Regions from separate parts of the Homo sapiens genome. Here region 1 is linked to region 2. The links come from fine-mapping of genetic effects on gene expression. A gene starts in region 2. The other region holds a variant in brackets. All regions are shown on one strand. Distances are from middle to middle.

Region 1 (9,141 bases), 29 kb after region 2:
GAGTGTCCTCCCGGCGGGGCCCAGGGAGAGGCAGCCAAAGAGCCAGGTCCCTGTGCCCCATGCCGGGCCTACGCCCCAACTTCTGTGGCTCGTGTGCTTACACGTCTTTGAAACATCTCCCCTGTACTCTCCACCCCCAAGGCCAAGGGGTGGCCTCCATACACATCCTCTGGAGTCTGTGCACTGCGAGCCCAAACCCGTTACTTAGCTGTGTAGCTCTGGGCAAGTTACAGAGCTCCTCCATGCCTCAGTTTCCTCAGCTGCAAAGTGGGATTAATACCTATTTTATAAGATGGCCGTGAGGATACATTGAGATGACGGGACACACTTAGTGTGGTGCCTGTCTTGTAAGGCACACGATGAAGGGTTGTTATCGGCACTACGCTTCCTGTTACGGATGTTCTCCATCTGATCATGGTTGGTTTGCATCTGTATTTCTATCCCAAGAGAAGGTCACTCTCCTGAAGTTTCATTTCTGGTTTTTCCTGGTGGCTGGAGACCGAGGAGCCTTCCCCTGAGTCTTGAGATGGCCTGAGGTTGGGTTTGTGGTAGGGGCTGGAGGCTGACCTGGGGCTTCTCCTGTTAGCCTCAAGCCTCACCCACCTTGGTGCTCTAACCAGCACTGGAGTCCTGCTGCCCAGAGGGTTTGCAGCCCCCCAGCCGGGCCCAATAGCCCCACCCTGTGCCTTTCAGTATGAATCCAAGAGTCGCATGTCAGCAGAGGCTGCCCTGAGTCACTCCTACTTCCGGTCTCTGGGAGAGCGTGTGCACCAGCTTGAAGACAGTGAGTACTGGGGGTCCGGGAGCAGGGCCACCCAGAACCAAGGAAAGGGGTTGGTGAGTGTGGGCAGAAGAACCAGAACAAAGAGGCCAGAGGCCCCAGCCCCAGCAGAGCAGCCCCGGGCACCTTGCCTCCCCTGCTGGGGTTCTCATTCCAAATTGAGGGGGCAAACAGTGGAAATGAGACGCTGCCTCGAGGGCTCAGTTGGTCCTTCTGGGCCAGTCCTTACTGGAGGCCAGCTCCACGCAGCCCTCTCCAGACTATGCACTTCTCTCCCCCAGCTGCCTCCATCTTCTCCCTGAAGGAGATCCAGCTCCAGAAGGACCCAGGCTACCGAGGCTTGGCCTTCCAGCAGCCAGGTAGGGGCTTGTGCTCTCCTGGACCCCTCCCCTTGTTAGTGGAAGCCAGAGCAGGCGACCCCTCCCCAGTGGGGACTCCCATGGTCCCCCCACCACTGGCTTCCCTTTGGACTCTTTGGGGAGCAGAGAAGGGGTTGGTTTCTCCTGCCTAGACTTCCTCGTCCAGCTCTTCCCTCCTCAACCCTCCACCCCAGACAGGACATTGCATTTGACAGTAGCCCTGGCAAAGAGGCATGCTGTCTCTGGTGCATTCTCTCTGCAAACCCTGAGCTCTCTAATCAGATTCCATCCTGGGAGAACGGTACTTTGTTCCTAGAACAGTCAATGGCCTTGGACATTGACAAATGCTTTCCATGCATCGTCTTCTTTAATCCTTAAAATACCCCTTGAAGCTAGTACTATTAATATTCCCCATTTCATAGTCAATGAAACTGAGGCTCTGGGAGGTTAAGTCACAAGTTCATGCAGCTAGTAAGTAGCAGAGATGGGATTTGACACCAGGTCAGACCGGCTCCTGTTTGCATGCCCTTGCTTGCTCTGTCAGAGCAGCTCTGGGGGACAGCGACTGTCCCTGCTGACCTGGGGTACCCGTCAGCCCAGCCTCCTCCCTGCAGCCCCACCTCTTCTCCATTCTCCAGGACGAGGGAAGAACAGGCGGCAGAGCATCTTCTGAGCCACGCCCACCTTGCTGTGGCCAAGGGACAAGAGATCACATGGAGCACAAATTCGGGTAGGATGGAGCCTGTGTGGCCCTCGGAGGACTGAAGAACGAGGGCTGACAGCCAGCCTGGAAGACCGCTTGGCAGCCCTTCTGGCCACGGCTGTTTCTTCTTTGTGCTTCCCGTGTGCCTCCCCAGTAGCCCTCACCTGCATACCAACCCCTCCTTTACCCACGTTGGGGCTGGCATAAGCTGCTTCCCTGAGAGGACATGAGGGGGGGGCGGTCCTCGTACCCTCTCCCACCCTGGTGTTTGGGCACCTGCGTGGGATGCACACGGATGACAGAATCAAGGCGCCAGGATGGGCACTCTGCCCTGGATACAGGCTCTACCCTCCTCCCCCAGGACCTGCCTAGTGCCAGTTTGGTAGTCCCCCTTTCTGGCCCCTTGGAGCCCACACACGTTTCATCTTTTTCCCCTCTGAGAGCAAGAAGAGACATGGCATGTTCTCTGGGACCCTGGAATCCTAGGTACCCACATGTGTGCCAAAGCCTACCCCACCTGGCAGGTGTCCCACAGCAACAGAAGGAATAGTAGTCCCCACTCTTTCCATCAGCCCTACCCTACCCTCATTCCCCGACACCCTCTGGCTTGAACCATGGCTGAGCAGTGCCGGCATACGCTTTGCTGGCATGCTTGGATGCCCAGCTGTGTCCAGAGGTGGCCTGGGACCGCCAGTTGCACGCCTGCCACCTCAGCCAGCCCCCGCCCAGCTCATCAGTCTGAATGGAGTTGCCTTAAATTGGCAGGTGGTACCGTACTCACTGCCCTTGGAGCTGTGACCGGCTCCTGCCTGTCCACCCCTTCCCGAGGTGGCTCCTGCTTACCTTATCATCCCAGGGCTCTGATTAGCCAGGCCTGGTCAGGGTCCTGGGGACGGCACCCAGATATGCAGAGTCACCCTGACACTGGTGCCAGGCTGACCTCAGCTCCCGAAGGCTCGCACAGCCTCCCCATCCTTCCTTCCCAGCCCTTGTGGCTCTGTCCACCTGATCCCAATACCAGCTTCCCCCAGCCCCTGCCACCCCAGAGGGCGGCCACGACAGGGAGAGGTGTAGATGCCACCATCTGAGGGAGAGGAACGTGGAACAGGAGCAGGCTCTGATGCTGAGAGGCTTGCCTCCGGGGGCTGGAAGCCTGGGTGGCCGGGGCCCCTGAAGAAGGCTCCCCTCTGTATCCCCCAGGTCTCCTCAACACTGGGCTGATCCTGAATGGCACAGGCCAAGGGGAGGCCAGCCTCGCCTTTCTACCCAGGCCCCCTGCCCTGCCCACCTCAGGCCCCCACCCTCCACTCCTCCCCACGGTACTGTGAACGTCGTGTGACTCAGTGCAGAGACAGATAATATATTTAATTCATGTACAGAAAGGAGCGAGCAGTCTCGTACAGAAAAGCTGACTTTGATAGATTGATGCCAAAGATGGAGAACTGAAGTCCCCCCTCCAGGCCTAATGAGTGTGGGTGGGGTGTGCTTGTGTGTATGTGTGTGTGTGTGTGTGTGTGTGTGTGTGTGTGTATATATATATATATATATATATATATATAGTGAGGAGAGAGTTTGATTTGTGTGTATCTCTGACCTCCCCTACACCCCAGGCTGTGGGACGAGTGCCTAGCATTCACCTTGCTGTATCCTGGGTGCTGCTGCGTTCAGAGCCAGAAGTTGGCTCTTGCTGAGGAGCATCAGTGGTTGTTGTGGGTGGGCAGAGGAGTCCCAGGCCTGGGAGTCTGACCTGTGGCCTGGCATTGGCCCAAGTTGGTGCCTGTGGGGTGGGGCTGGCCAGGAGAGCAAAGAGGGACCCCTGGGCGGGGGTCTGGGGTCTGGCCGTGCAGCTAATCCCTGTGTTCCTGATGCCAAATGGCCCCCTGGCTTCTGGGGAGGGAGGTAGGCAAGATCAAGATGAGGTTGACATGGGAGATGGCCAAGGCCAGGGCAGCAGGACGAGGGTGTGGGCCTCACTGTAATTCAGGCTCTGCAAGAATTGCTGCAGACCTCGAATACACCTCCTGCTGCTGCCTAGACCGCCTCCCCACCTTTGATCTGGACACAACCCACCCCCGCAACACATCATACACAGCTCCCAAAGTGCTCAGAGTCCTGCTGTTGTCCAGTTCGGTGTCCAGGTTTGTTCTTCCCGAGACCACTCTGAGAATGCCAGGCCCGAAACCCTGCCTCCTGACCTGTCCTCATGCCTGGCCTTAAGCACTTTGCAGTT[TGCC/T]GGCATGGTTTGCAGTTACTTAAGAGGGTGGCTGCTTTCCAGAGGAGGAAGCTGATGCTGAGGTTGATGATGTCTCCCAAGGCTCTGGAAGTAAGGGGCGGGCCAGGGCTCCATTCTCAGCTCAGCACCAGTTCTACCGAAGGAGACCTCCTCACTTTGCTTGTAGGCAGCCAGACACCAAAGTAGGGTCGTAACTCAGACAATTAGTGCTTGAGGGGAGGAGAAGGGCTGGGAAATGCATTGGTGGGAATTGGAAACCAGACATTTATTAAGTTCCCTGCTGGGTGCCAGGCAGCCCTGTGCCCAGGCATTGTCTCACTGAATCCTCATAGAAACCCCCCTTTCTCCCCACTTTGCAGATGAGGACAGGAGCCTCCCAGGGGTAGCCTGGGGTCACATACCAAATTAGAATCCCAGGTGTCTGCCCCCCAGCCCTGTGGTCTTTAAGGAGTGGGAGGCGTGGGGAGGGTGAGGTGGAGATAGTGCAGAGGCCCTGGAGGGAGGAAAACACACAAGGAAGGATATGGGCAGATGCTGCCTTGAGGAGCACTTTGCAAGGCAACTCTTGTGGCAGGCAGAGGTGGCCCAGAGTCGCTGGGGGCAGCCGTTCTTGCTGCTGCAGCTGTGGCCCTGCTGAGGAGGCACACACCTAGGGGCTTCTGACATCAGGCATGCTGAGCTTCTGCCCTAGAAAGCTGCCAGGGCTGGGAGTGCCGGCCAGCCTGGGGGTGTGGAACTCAGCTGGACAGGCCTACACCAGGCCTTGGATATGATTGGTGCTCAAAAAGTGATGGCTCCGGAGAAGGAAGCTGGGTTCGGGTGTGAAGAGGGGCTGAGTGATTTTGGCCATGAGCTGCCACTGGGCTCCCAGGGACCAGGCTGAGCTACAACCCAACCCAGTGTCCTGGAGCCCTCGGTTTCCTGGGCACCCCTGCAATCATTTCCTTATGCCGGTGACTCTCAAAAACAGGAGCCTGCCCCATTCTGCTGGAATCCCCGGCCCAAAGCAGCCTTTTACAAGTCATTCCCCCTCAGGCCTCACTTGTCACCTGCCTGCTTCTGGGACAGGTCAGGAATATCCAGGGTGCAGATGCCGTCCCCTCCACCATGGCCACTTGGCAGGGGCATTTGAGGCATGTAGCAGCCCTGCAGCTTCAGACAAAATGTCCTATTTGCTGAACTCTACAGGGTGGGGGTGATATCAGCTCCTGTGCTTGGCACTGCCCACATCATCTTGCACCCCGGTGGGACCTGGAGCTCGCTCTCCCCTGCCCCACCCTCCTGTGGGCTCCCATTCACCCTGCCCCTACTCTCTGGGTCCAGTGGTCAGGGCTGATGTCTAATAGGCCACCACTCCTCTACCCTGCTAGGCCCCCTGGGTCAGCCAAGTGTCAGACACTGTTGCAGGCCTGCTCCTTTCCTCCCTTCTTGAAGCATCCCAGCCTCCTTTGGGCCATCTCCCCACCTCTATCACTGCTCAGACCCTTGCTTTTGGCCGTGACACTCTACAGCACCCCAGTGAGCCCCTCTATCTCCAGAGCAAATCATCAGCACCATGAATTAGCCACAGCCTCCTCCATGCCTGGCCCTGTGCTAGATGCCAGGGACACCAAGATGCATGACATTCCACCCCTACCTTCCAGAAGCTCAGACCTGCCGGCAGAGATGGCCTTGATTACAACAGGTTTTCTCAAGAACCCACTGTGCACCCGGTGCTGTGCTAGGCACTGAGGATACAGCCGTGAACAAGATGGCCAAGCCCTACTCTCATAGAGCTTATGTTCCAGTGGGGGGTATAAGACGTTATCCAAACCAACAGGCATATCAAGGGGTCATAAGTGTGATGAGACAAAATAAGGCAGGGGCAGGTTTGAGGGGGAAGAATGTGATGGCATAGGGAGGGGAACTGCCTGGTCAGGGAGGGACCTCTCCATCAAAAATGAGCTATGGGCTGGGCGTGGTGGCTCACACCTGTAATTCTGGCACTTTGGGATGCCAAGGCAGGCAGATCGCTTGAGCCCAAGGGTTTGAGATCAGCCTGGGCAACATAGCGAGACCCCGTCTCTATTTAAAAAAAAATTAGCTGGGTGTGACGGCTCATGCCTGTAGTCTCAGCTACTCAGGAGGCTGAGGTAGGAGGATCACTTGAACCCAGGTCGAGCCGCAGTGAGCAGTGATCATGCCACTACCATCCAGCCTGGGCAATGGAGTGAGACCCTGTACCAAAAAAAAAAAAAAAAAAAAAAAAAGTGAGCTATGTTGTGTAAGGGGGCCAGGTGGACAGCCAGGGACAGAGTATTCCAACAAAGGCCCTGAGGTGAACGTACTTGAGAATGAGTGAGAGGCAGTGAGGCCAGGGCACAGTGAGCCAGGCAGCATGGCAGGAGGGATGTATCATGTGGGGCAGTGGCTCTGCCCATTAGATCCACCTGGGAAGTGCTTAAGATCCACTGCCATCCGGCCCCAGCTCAGATTGATTCAGATGACCCTAACATGTATCCAGGGTTGAGAACCGCTCACTCGTGCGGGGTCTTGCGGGCTGTGGTACGGGTTCTGGATTTTATTCTGAGATGGGAAGCCACTGGCCTCTGTTTTTAAAGGCTCAGAGGGTCAAATAGGAGATGTCAGCCCCTATAAGGAGGGTGATGGGGCAGGGAGAGGAAGGATCCCCCAGGTGGTGGTAGAGCAGCAGCAGGTGTGGTGGGAAGGGAGAAGGGAAGCACCTGCTCTCCTGTGTTGCTGCGAGAGGGACTGTCATCCTAATCCCAGGGAGGGCCACAGAGGCTCTAGGGTTAGGTGACCTGCATGGCCACACAGGGAGTAAGGTGGACTGTCAATTACAACCCAGGTCAGCCTACCTGAGCAGCTGCCTCCGGGCAGGTGTGGGCACTGGCACGGACACTCCACCTCACTTGTTTGCATGGAGGATGGGCATCTGGTTTCCAGGGACTGGGAAATCCTTGCCTTCTGGTCACCTAAAAGCATTGTCTGACAGGCAGCCAGTTGACACCTGGGGGTTGGGCAAAAGTCACTATCCCCCACCCCACCAAGTGCCCCCTGAGTGATGACTCAGCCCCTCTTCCGGACCCTCAGAACCTCCCACCATCTGCCAACTAAAAGCATCATTGGGCACCAGGGCCCTGCTCCCGCCCTAGCTGTGGAGGCCCGGTGGCTGGCATCATTGCTGATGGTCAGTGCCCAGACTCCAGGGAGTGTGTGCCAATTCTCCTAGACAGGACGGGTGGGGCCAAGGGCAGCTCTGATGAGATTGCAGGTGCCACGTGGCCACTCCCGCTTCCTCCCTTGTTTTCTCCTCTTCCTTCTTCCTGCTTCTTTTTACTTCTCTCAGTGCCCCTTGGGGGCACTAGGTATTACTCAGTGGGCGGCCCTGAGTAATACTGAAACCCAGAGATCAATAATTTGACCCAGCCTCTTGTCTAAGGAAGGAGATTTTGCAGCCTCTCCCTTGAATCAACCCAAGCCTCCAGTCCCTGAGATGTGTTCTCAATGCCAAGCATCAACCCTTGCTCCTGCATCCCTGGGCCCTTCCTGGTGATGTGACGCAAACATGGAGAGCTGAAGCATGGACAGGGCGTGGCAGGGAGGATCCCCGCTGCCCTCCTGCATGTGGTCAGCACTCCTGCTTGCCCCTTTCTGGGCTAGAAACTTCTAGCCCAGTTCCTCATCTTCCTGTCTCCTCCAGAGCTCCTCCCTCCCTAATTTACTCATTATCCATCAGATGGTTCCAGACTCTGTGCCAGGCTCTGTTTTCAGTACCCAGGATACAAACTTGACCCTGACTTAGACCCCACTCCCAGGAGCTCAGCATCTCAGAGGCGGCTAGGATAATCTTTTCTTCCTCTCAGCTTCTTAAGGTCTCAGCTACTTGGGGGAAAGACAGTTGTCCATTAGTCATTCTATTAAAATTTCCTAAGGTTTTTTTTTTTTTCAAGAACAATAAAATGTTTTAATGTCCTCATGTTTTCCCTGGAGGAGAGATTGGCTAAGTCCTAGGTTCCTGGGAAGAAGGAATCTTGAACAACCAGGGAAATAACACACAGGCTCCAAAATCACAGACTTGGATTCAAATCCCAGCTCTACGGCTTGCAAGCTGTGTCACCTTGGGAATGTTCCTTAACTGCTCTGTGCCTCAGTTTCCCTCTCTGTAAAACGGAGATAGTGATAACACCTATTTCACAAGGTTGTGAGGATTTAAGAATGAATATTCAGGCCGGGCGCAGTGTCTCATGCCTGTAATCCCAGCCCTTTTGGAGGCCGAGGCGGGTGAATCACTTGAGGCCAGGAGTTCGAGACCAGCCTGGCCAACATGGTGAAGCCCCATCTCTATTAAAAATACAAAAATTAGCCGGGCGTGGTGGTGGACCCCTGTAATCCCAGCTACTTGGGAGGCTGAGACAGGAGAATTGTTTGAACCCAGGAGGTGGAGGATGCAGTGAGCTGAGATCGTGCCACTGCACTCCAGCCTGGGTGACAGAGTGAGACCCTGTCTCAAAAAAAAAAAAAAAAAAAAAAAGACAAAAAGAGAATGAATATTCAGGAGGGGCCTGACCCAGAGTGCTAGGTGAGTGAGCTTCACATCCTCACTCTGCACACTCCCACCCACTTCTCCACAAGCAGGAATTCCAGCTTCCTCCCTCCTGGAAGTAAAGTGGAAGATCATATGCTTTTATTTCTTGCATTCTTCACTCTTGATAAGATCTCAATCAGCAAGAATGTATTAAGAACATCCTACTTAAAAGATTTTGCAAGACTTTTAAAATGACCTCAGCCCAGAGTTTTTTCTCCACGGAAGCTTTAAACGTAGCTGGGGAAGTAAACATGGAAAGAGAATTTATGATAAAAGGCACTGGGTCAGGCGTCACTCAAAGTGGATCCGCTGCCTCTTGAGGTAGTAAGTGCTTTGTCCCCCAGACTGGGAAACCACTTGGGAATTCCAGGGGCATCACTGCCTCTGGTATGTCTTGCCAGGTTCCTGAGGAGCCAGCAGCCAGATCTGCACCTGGCCTGACCCTATTCCTTGGATCTTTCTTTTTTGCTGTGCGGA
Region 2 (9,141 bases):
TCTGGGGATGCAGCTGTTGCCTCATCTGAAGTCTAGAATGGTGTGTGTGTGTGCGTGCATGTGCATGCACATGTGTAAACACATGCATAAATGCACACATGCCTGTACTTTCACCACAAATAGCGAAGGGAGGATATGACACTTGGTGAAGTGATAAAGCAGAAAGTCCCAGGCTCTCTGCTGGAATCACACTGCTACAGGTAAATGATATTTTTCTCCTAATCATCCCCACTTCTCATAAATCACTGGAAAACAATGGCCTAGGTTTAGCCAGAGGAGGAGTAAGAATTGGCTCAGTCTAGCCAAGTCCTGCTGTCCCAATGACTCACAGACCTCTAACTAGCTAGGCCATAATGGGTCAGTCCATCTTCAGGTCTCTGCTGCCAATCTCCCTCCTGCCTGCCAAGGGCAGGCTGTTGAGGTGAGTTTCTCTGTTCTCACTTAGCTTCTCATTTCTCATGTCTTTACTTGATTCCTGGAACCCTAAAAAGGGCCCTCTGGACAAACACTAATGATCTCATACACATGCAGGTCGTTCTACAGTGTGCAAAGCACTTTCACAGTCACCTTTGCATTTAGTTCTCCCATCCTGAAAGATAGGTATTCACACTATTCCCCTTTTGCTATAGAGGAAAACAGAGGCCCAGAGAAACAAAGTGATTTCTGCACCTTAGGGGCGGAGTCAAGTCTCCGGCCTCCCAAATGTCCCTGCAGTGCTTTCAGAGACTGTGCCTGCTCGGATATAGGGCCAGAGGGGAAGGGAGCCCCTGACAATGTGCAGAAAAGAGATTCTCTGTTGGCTGAACTCTCCCTGTCTGGATGCTGTGCCTCCCAGGGGAAAGTGGGGCGGGCTTGAACTTTGGTTTTTCAGATGCTATTCAAATGCACTGCCCACACAGTCTGCGAGGGAGAGCTGTTTCCAGCTTCCCTGCTCAGCCCTCAGGCACCCAGGGACGCCTGTCCTATCTGCAGAGCAGTGGCATGTCACTGGCAGCGAGGAGGAGACAGGAGCAGAGTGGGCAGTGGGCTGAGCTGCTGCTGGGGCCACCATTGTCATGCTGCTCAGGCCTGCCAGCATTACACTGCTACATGGCTAGGGTGACCAGGGCCTCCCGGGGATGCCACAGATCCATTAGACTAGCAGAGGGGAAGGGGGCTGCAGGACCCACAGGGGATGGGCCCCAGGGGCTGGGGTGCCAGGGAAACCCCCAGCTGAGGGTCTGTTGTCTGTCCCTCTGCAAGGAGGGAGTTAATGGGCTGCAGAAAAGAGAAACAGCATTGATTGGGTGCCAAGTTTACATCCTATTGAAACCTCACAACAGCCCCATGAGAGAGGGACTATTACCATCTCCATGTTATGGACAGGAAAGGAAGTCAGATATGTCAGTAACTGCCCAAGGTCACACAGTTTACATGGCTTTAAAGCTCAAAGTATTGCTTGGTAAGGCAGCAGGGAAGGAGCCCCTCCTTAGTGGAAGTCCTAGGTAGTGCTGCTTCTACTGTGTTTGGCTTATTGCAAGATGCACAGAAAGAAAGTTGGCATCGGAGGGCAGGGGACACCAAGGGGTTCAGAGGGAATTTTTGAAATGGTACAGATGAGAAGCAGAAAAATTAGGCTGACCCAAAGAGCACACATACACAGGCCACTGATGTGTATGACTGGGTATCATGGACTCCCTATCCAGCTAGTAAGCCCTGCCCAGGGTCACTCTTATCTGGTTCCCCCCTCCCACCTCCCATCTGCACTTGCCCTTTCCTGGGGTGGCCAAAGCTTGTTGTGCCATTCTCTGGGCTCCATATAGATGCCCACCTGCAGTTCATCCTCTTCCTTCAACCCTGAGAACCAAGACGATGCTTCAAAACTGAAGCTTTCAGAGATTCTGAAGCAATCCCATGTGGTGGTGGTGGGGCAGGGGGTGATGTGACAGGCTCTGAGCAGGTGGCTGGCCCTACATCATTTCAGCTGTCATCTCTCCTCTGTGGAGCTGTCCCAAATTCTCTTGGGCAGAGTTAAGGGCTTCTTCCTCTGCTCAGCCCATATTGCCTTGGTAGGTGACTGCCTCTGCATATCTTTCTCCACCTGAACAGTGAACTACATGAGAATAGGAACTGAGACTTAAAATCATCTATCCAATGCAAGGATCCAGTATAGTCCTTGTCACATAGCAGGTGTTCAATAAATGTTTGTTGAATGCATGAATGATGGTAATTATATTTACTATCTATTGAGTTCTCCATTATGAGCCAAGTCCTATGCCAGGCCCTTAGCATACATTACCCTAATATGTACAACAACCATACAAGATTGATTTTAGCAACTTTGTTCTACAGATGGCCTCAGAAAGCTTAGTTCGCTTGCCCAAGTTCACAGAGCAATCTAAGGAGGTGCTGGGAATCAAGGCTCACTTAAGAAGCTCCAAGGTCCCACTCAGCCTATCACATCAGTGCTTCTAATCTTGACACTGTTGGCTCCCTTATCTTCTAGAATCCAATAGTCACAAGGCTCCATGACCCTGTCTCCTACCTATCTCTCAAATCAGTTCCCTCCTCTCCTCCCTGCTGCCGCTGTGTGGTCTAAGCTCATTCTCATTTTCCACTAGGATCAGCCTCCACGTTGGGGGTCTTCAGGACCCAGCACCTGCCTGCCTCTACAGTGTCACCTCCACCCCAGACTTTAAGTTCTGACCTCATGGAACTGTGGGTCCATATTCTGTCACCCCTGCACTCTGCACAAGGGATTACCCCTCCTGGAAAAAACAGGGAAAATCCTTCCTCCTCTCTCTTGTCCCCTCATCCTGTAACCCTCACCTCAAGCAGAATAGCTCCTCCCAGGCATCCGTAACACTAAGCCTCCTCCTATAGCATCCTAACTGTTTGCTTCCCTGCCGCATTACACCAAGAGCTTCTTGAAGGCAGGGACTGGGTTATACTCATCTTATGTGCCCAGAGCCCTGGCTATCATTTGGCACATAAGAGATGTTGAGAAAGTGTTTGTGGAGACCTCTTGACTTCACCCCCCTAGTTCCTTGAAATTCTACCCTTTGGCCCCACTCTCTCTAATCCGCCAGTAAACAGTTCCTTGGCCATAGTCCTTCTCCCTTTCCCTCCCTGCCCCTTCCAAACCTCTTTATGGCCTCCTGCTCCCCAGGCTTCTCACCATCCACTGGACTACAGAGCCAGGAGGTTGCTGCACACCTAAAGGCTCTGGATCCATGCACCCCGACAACACTTGGCAGTTTCATTTTTAGGAAGTGCTGTGCCCAGGAAATCTGCATGCCTTGGCAGAGAAAGCGAGGTAAAAAAAAAAAAAAGAGTTGGGAGGCCCTCTGTGAGATGTCAACTACCCACAGGTCACTTTCATGCATGGGCCCAGTGTCTTCCTTCATTCTCCTGTCTCCAGCTGACAGTGGGACCTCAGGCCCATGTCTTCCAGAAGGAAACTGTTCTATTCTCAACAACTCACAGTCCCCAGGGAAAGGGTTCAGGTAGAAGCACATGTACACTGTGGAGCACCCCCTCCTAAGGAGACTTTCCCTGTGGGAGACCCCAGACTGCAGCAGCCAAGCCCTCTGGTAGGGCAGGGGACACAGACTGCCTTGATGAGGTGCCATAGAGCCAAGGCACACCTCCTCTCCTCACAGCCCTCAGGAGGAAGCAGAGATGAGAGGGGCCTGGCGGTGGGGCACTGTGCCCTTCACCCCCATCCCCAGATTTTTGTTTTGTTTTTTTTTTTGATCCTTGAAGTCAGATGATGTGGGTGCAATGGCCATTGGCCTGAGTTCTAATCATGGCTCGCCATGAACTCTTGTGGCACTTTAGGCCAGTTCAATTGCTTTGCTGGGCCTCAGTTTCCCCTTCTGTAAAATGAGAGTGCCACTAGCTGAACTAGCCATTCTGTAACCCTTCTTGGATGATTCTCAAATATCCTGTGGAGTTTAATTCCAAAAGGACAAGTTGAATTATCCTTCGGGGAGGGAAATGTGAATGATGGCTGGTAACAAGGGCTTCATTCAGGTCCTGGAGAGGTGGGAACTTTGTCCGGAAAGGTAAGTGACAAGTCCCACTGGATAGGGTAGAAGGGGAGCCCGAGGGCTACTATTGTCAAGAAAATGACCACCAAAATCTGTCCATGCACATTCGTTCCTAGGGCGCCAGGTACAGGGAGGTACCTAGGAGAGGTAGGAGCACCGCTTTTAGAGACAGGCAGGCACTCTCAGTGTACCCCTGGCGCCTTGGTGTCCTGGGGTGATCCAGTCCAGAAGGCCTCATCCCCTAGCCAAGGCTCTCAGGGCCGGTTTTAGAAACGAAACAGGAAGAGGCACTTGGACCCTGGTTCCCAGAGTGGGAGAAAGGGGTGGGCACCCGGGCAGAGGGAGCCCTGGGGATTGGTAGCGGCTGTGGGCAGGGCGGGAGGGCCGGGGGCGGAGTCAACTTGTACATGTGAAAAACTCTGGCGGGGGCCGGGCATTTTCCTTCCTCCTCCTCCTCCTCCTCCTCCTCCCTCCTCTTCCCCACCTTCCTCCACTCCCTCCCTTCCCCTCCCCTTCTACCTCCTCCTCGGCCAGCTCAGGTTGCAGCTTCTCTGGGGAACTGCTCACCTTTCCGGAGCAGGGGAAGCTGCCCCGTGCCCGGGAGGGAGCGGGCGCACCGCGGCCCCCAGGACACGCGCTGTGAGTCCCGCGGGCGGTGCGCCTGGGAGGAAGGGGGAGGTCGGAGGAGCGGGCACCGCGGCGCCGGGTATAAGGAGCAAAGGTAAGCGGAACGGCTCTTAAAGGCGCAGTTTTGCTTTTGCCCTGAGGCGAGAGGTTGGAGGGAAATACCGGAGCGGCGAGGGGAGAGCAGAGATCACGAGGCGTGATCTGTGTGATACTGTGTTGTGTGTTGAGGGGTGGGGGGTGCCCTCGAAAGGCCACTCGTAAGTTCCAGGTGCTTGAGAGGGAGGGTTATTTTGCAATCTCAGACCCCGCGCCCCCTTAGGGAGTCTCCATCTGGGATCACTTTGGCCCCTGGGCTCCCGTCTGAACCCTACAAAGCAAAGTTTTCCACCCAGTCCGGAACCAGGCGCTTTCTAAGCTCCCTTCATTCTGGGAAGGGCAAGGGTCAGGAGTCTCCAGGGACCAAAGGACCCGAGAGTGTGGGGCCACATCGCTGCCTTGAAGGGCTTCCTGGGCTCTGGTGAACTTTCCAGAGCGGCAGGCAGGGGGTGGGAGGCCGGAGCCCTGGGAAGAACGTGGAAGGACACGTGAAGCCCTGCAGGTCCCAGTTCTGGGGGAGGCAGGGGTCTGGGGAATGCTGCTGCTTCTCTCTTTCCACCCCGGAAGACCAAAGGGGCAGTGCCCCCCTCCACCCCTCATCAACAGGCGACAGAGGGTTAATGCAGCAGAGGGAAAGGAGGCTGGGTGGGGCCGGGGGGAGTGGGCGGTGACCTGTTGGGCTAAGGAGATGTGCCTTGAGGATTCTGCTGTAGTTGAGGGACACCATCAGGAATCTGAAATCCAAAATCGGGTCTGGACTGGAGGCCTCTGTTTTCGCCCTGTGGGGGGCGGGGATTCCCTGAAGGTGTCTGCAGACCTTGTGCTGGGTGGGAGTTGGGCTGCAGAAACAGTGAGGGGTTTTCTGTGCTGCAGGGTCAGCACCCTCCTAGGCACCAGCCCTGCCTCTCTTCATTCTCTCTGGGCACCTCCCGGCAGTCGGGGTGGGAGGATTGACACTGTGGGAGTGAGAGGCCCTGGAACCTCTTCCGCGCTATCTGCTACTGTCTCCCCTTCTTCCCCACCCCTAGCCCAGCCCTCGGCAGTTCCCCAGCTGTAGCCTGGGCCCTGTGACTCACTAACACCACCGGCTTGCCCCTCCTGTGTCAGCACCCAGTGAGCTTCGGCATGTTCGCGTGGCATTCCCCACCCGGGCATGGGCATGCAGCACATTCCTGGACACGGGCCTGAGAGGATGCCTGGAGCGCCTGGTGGACTGGCACGTCCTCAGAGATCCCCTGCCTTTAGCCTGGCCTTGGGAGGGGCCTGGGAAAACGGTGCTGAGGGTGCTGAGGGTCGGTGGAGTACAGGGCGACACTGGCTCCAGGTCCGGGTTTGCATCCTGAAGGCGTTCCAGAGAGAGGGTCACCTTGCCACAGCAAAGCTGCTATCTCGGGTTACCCTTTCCCAGCCACCTCTTGTGCAGCTGAGGAGGCTGTGGGGCTGACCCCTCCCCCACCCTTAATCTGGGGTGTACCTGACCATTGGGTTCCCAGGACTCTCCCCACTGGGTCCCCAGGACTCTCCCCATACCCTGCCAGGAGAATGGAAGAAGCTCTCCACGCGTGCCAGAAGAAGTTCTTCCCAAACTTATCGGGGGTGCCAGAGGCAGAGTAGACAAGCCTTAGTGGCCACCATTTGTTGAATATCTACTGTGCGCCAAGCAGTGCGTCACAACTTTATGAAGTAGGTATTATTATCATCCCCATTTTACAGGTGAAGAAACTGAGTCTCTGAGAGACCAACTTTTCCAAGGTCACACAGAGGTGGGATCCAGCCCACTTCCGTCTGACCCCAAGCCCCTGCTGTTAACCCCTGCCCCATTGTGGGGAGGTTCCGGCCCACTCTGGAGTTCTCTGGTCTGCGTCAGTCCTCAGGAGAAGAAAGAATGGGGGTGATGCTCCAAATATTGAGGCTCCCATCTGTCTGTCCTGCACTAGGCAGAGCCAGGCTTCTCCATGGGGCACAGGAGAGAGGGCACCAGATCTGAGGAGCAAATAGGTTCTTGGTCTGAGATCTCGTGGGATCAGGTTGCCAGCCCTGCAAACCCCCGCTCAGGTCTAGAGGACATGGAGCTGCCTTTCAGGGTGCATTTGCTTCCTCTACAGACTCGGACTCTGTCCTCTGCCTACTTGGGCCGTCCCGCACTCGGGAATGCGTCCTACACTGTAGGGCAGAGCCCGGCTTGACTCTTCCCGGTTCCTACCCTAACCAAGCCTCTACTTTCTGGGATCACCCTGTTGGGACTTTTGTCCAGCATCTCCATCTACCTGTCCTCTGATTCCTTCTGTTCTTCTCTAACTGAGCTTGAGAACTAAAGGGGAGGGCAAACTTCTGGCCTTGGTGGAATCCAGCTCCAGCATATAGTAGCTATGTGACCTTCCCCTCACTAGCACACTCGTGAATTTCTCCCAGCATCCGTTCCCTCATCTGTAAAATGAGGATCATAATAGAGGGCTGTTATAAGATTTAGGCTGGGTGCGGTGGCTCACGCCTGTAATCCCAGCACTTTGGGAGGCCGAGGTGGACGGATCACGAGGTCAGGAGATCGAGACCATCCTGGCTAACATGGTGAAACCCCATCTCTACTGAAAAAAAAAAAAAAGCACAAAATTAGTCAGGCGTGGTGGCAGGTGCCTGTAGCTACTCGGGAGGCTGAGGCAGGAGAATGGCGTGAACCCGGGAGGCGGAGGTTGTAGTGAGCCGAGATTGCACCGCTGTACTCCAGCCTGGGCGACAGAGCGAGACTCCGTCTCAAAAAAAAAAAAAAAAAAAAAAAAAAAAAATAATGCACAGTGCCTGGCATGTAGCAGAGACTAAATAACTGGTAGCTATAGTGGTTGGTGGTGCTTGTTTGGAAAGGGAATTTCCTGGTGATTGCACCAGGGCTGGTCTAGAGACCAAGGTAGATTTTCCCAGCCCCATCAGGCCAAGCCCTTAGTTAGACAGAATCTTTACTGCTCTTCCAGGTTAGGGAGGAGGGCTCTGTGTAAGAGAATGGTGGTGGTGGTAGGGGAATGGGTTGGATGGAAATCTTCCAGGAGGGGCCAGGAATCTGTGCTGTGGGGGCCCTACCTTCTGGCAGTTATGAATGAGGCAGGCACTGGGAGCTGGAGAGGCAGCAGTCTCTTGCTCTGAGGGCCCTCTGGCAGCGCCTTCTTTCCCTGAGGTAGGAGGACCCTCCCCTGGTACTTAATTAATTGCAGTCCCTGTTCTGCTCTGTTGTTCAGGGTGAGTGGCTGGCCTGGTTCCAGGCCCACCTGATTAGCCCACCTTTGGCAATAAGTCACATTTCTCTTCCTCGGCTCTGTGTCCCACCATAACCCCTTACGTCCCCTTCCCTGGACTTTTCACCTTTGCCCTCCAGGCATTCCCTGCTGAGTGGGCACTTTCCCACATCCAGGGGGTGGGAGCAGACCAAGGTTAATCTTGTCCTGGCTCCCACAGCTGCTTACACACACACAGCTGCATGCACATGCACACACAGGCTGGGCTCACAACAGCTCAGGCCAAGGGTCTGGGATCCAGGATCACTACAGAGCTGGTAGCTGGGCCTGGCTGGAGCTGGCCAGTGGTTCAGCAGCAAGTCTGGAAGAGGAAAAGCCGTGGGCGCATCTCCGCCAGACCTCCTGTCTGAAAGAGAGCCCATCTGCTCCTAGAATCTCCACAGCTACATCTGCAGAGGAGGAGGGGTAGTGAGGCAAGTGTGAGGTTTGGTTTTAAACTGAAAAGGGAGGTGGGCGGATTGCTTGAGCCCAGGAGGTCGAAACCAGACTGGGCAACATGGCAAGACCCCATCTCTAAAAAAATACAAAAATTAGCCAGGTGTGGTGGCACGCGCCTGTAGTCCCAGCTACTCGGGAGGCTGAGAGGGGAGGATCGCTTGAGCCTAGGAGGTTGAGGCTGCAGTGATCCATGATTGCATCACTGCACTCCAGCCTGGGCAACAGAACAAGAACTTGTCAAAAAAAAAATTGAAAAGGGTCTTAGGCCGGGTGTGGTGGCTCATGCCTGTAATCCCAGCACTTTGGAAGGCCAAGGCGGGTGGATCACTTGAGGCCAGGAGTTTGAGACCAGCCTGGCCAACATGATGAAACCCTGTTTCTCCTAAAAATACAAAAATTAGCTAGGCATGGTGGCGTGTGCCTGTAATCCCAGCTACTCGGGAGGCTGAGGTAGGAGGATCGCTTGAACCCAGGAGGTGGAGGTTGCAGTGAGCCGAGGTCGCACCACTGCACTCCAGCCTGGGCGAGAAACAAAACAAAACAAAACAAAAAACGGGTCTTGAAGCAAAGCTCCCTGACAGCATGAGTAACCCTGAAGAGACTGGACACCTTGCTCTGGGAGACATGGGCCAGAACTTTTGAAAGGACTATGATGAGATCCTCTT

Which allele goes with the higher level. Alleles are on the strand shown, and positions count from the first base shown. SD is a standard deviation of normalised expression in the study named.
With allele TGCC in place of T in region 1, the expression in nucleus accumbens of the gene that starts at base 4,543 in region 2 is higher (small effect, 0.22 SD a copy in GTEx).

The links. PIP is the estimated chance that this variant, and not a neighbour inherited with it, causes the effect.
Region 1: its variant is fine-mapped to the expression of CDK18 in nucleus accumbens (GTEx, PIP above 0.99).

What each region holds. Positions count from the first base shown.
Region 1 is chr1:205,529,566-205,538,706 of GRCh38, forward strand. It overlaps CDK18 (cyclin dependent kinase 18), which reads left to right. Exons shown (of 16, transcript NM_212502.3): 14 at 694-784; 15 at 1,063-1,140; 16 at 1,779-3,225. The coding sequence ends at 1,813. Among named protein-coding and RNA genes, the nearest start is that of CDK18, 29 kb to the left of the region's middle. RefSeq lists an enhancer at 6,872-7,373. The variant TGCC/T (reference allele first, on the strand shown) is at 4,074.
Region 2 is chr1:205,500,127-205,509,267 of GRCh38, forward strand. CDK18 (cyclin dependent kinase 18) reads left to right here and starts at 4,543. Exons shown (of 16, transcript NM_212502.3): 1 at 4,543-4,670. RefSeq lists an enhancer at 6,467-7,120.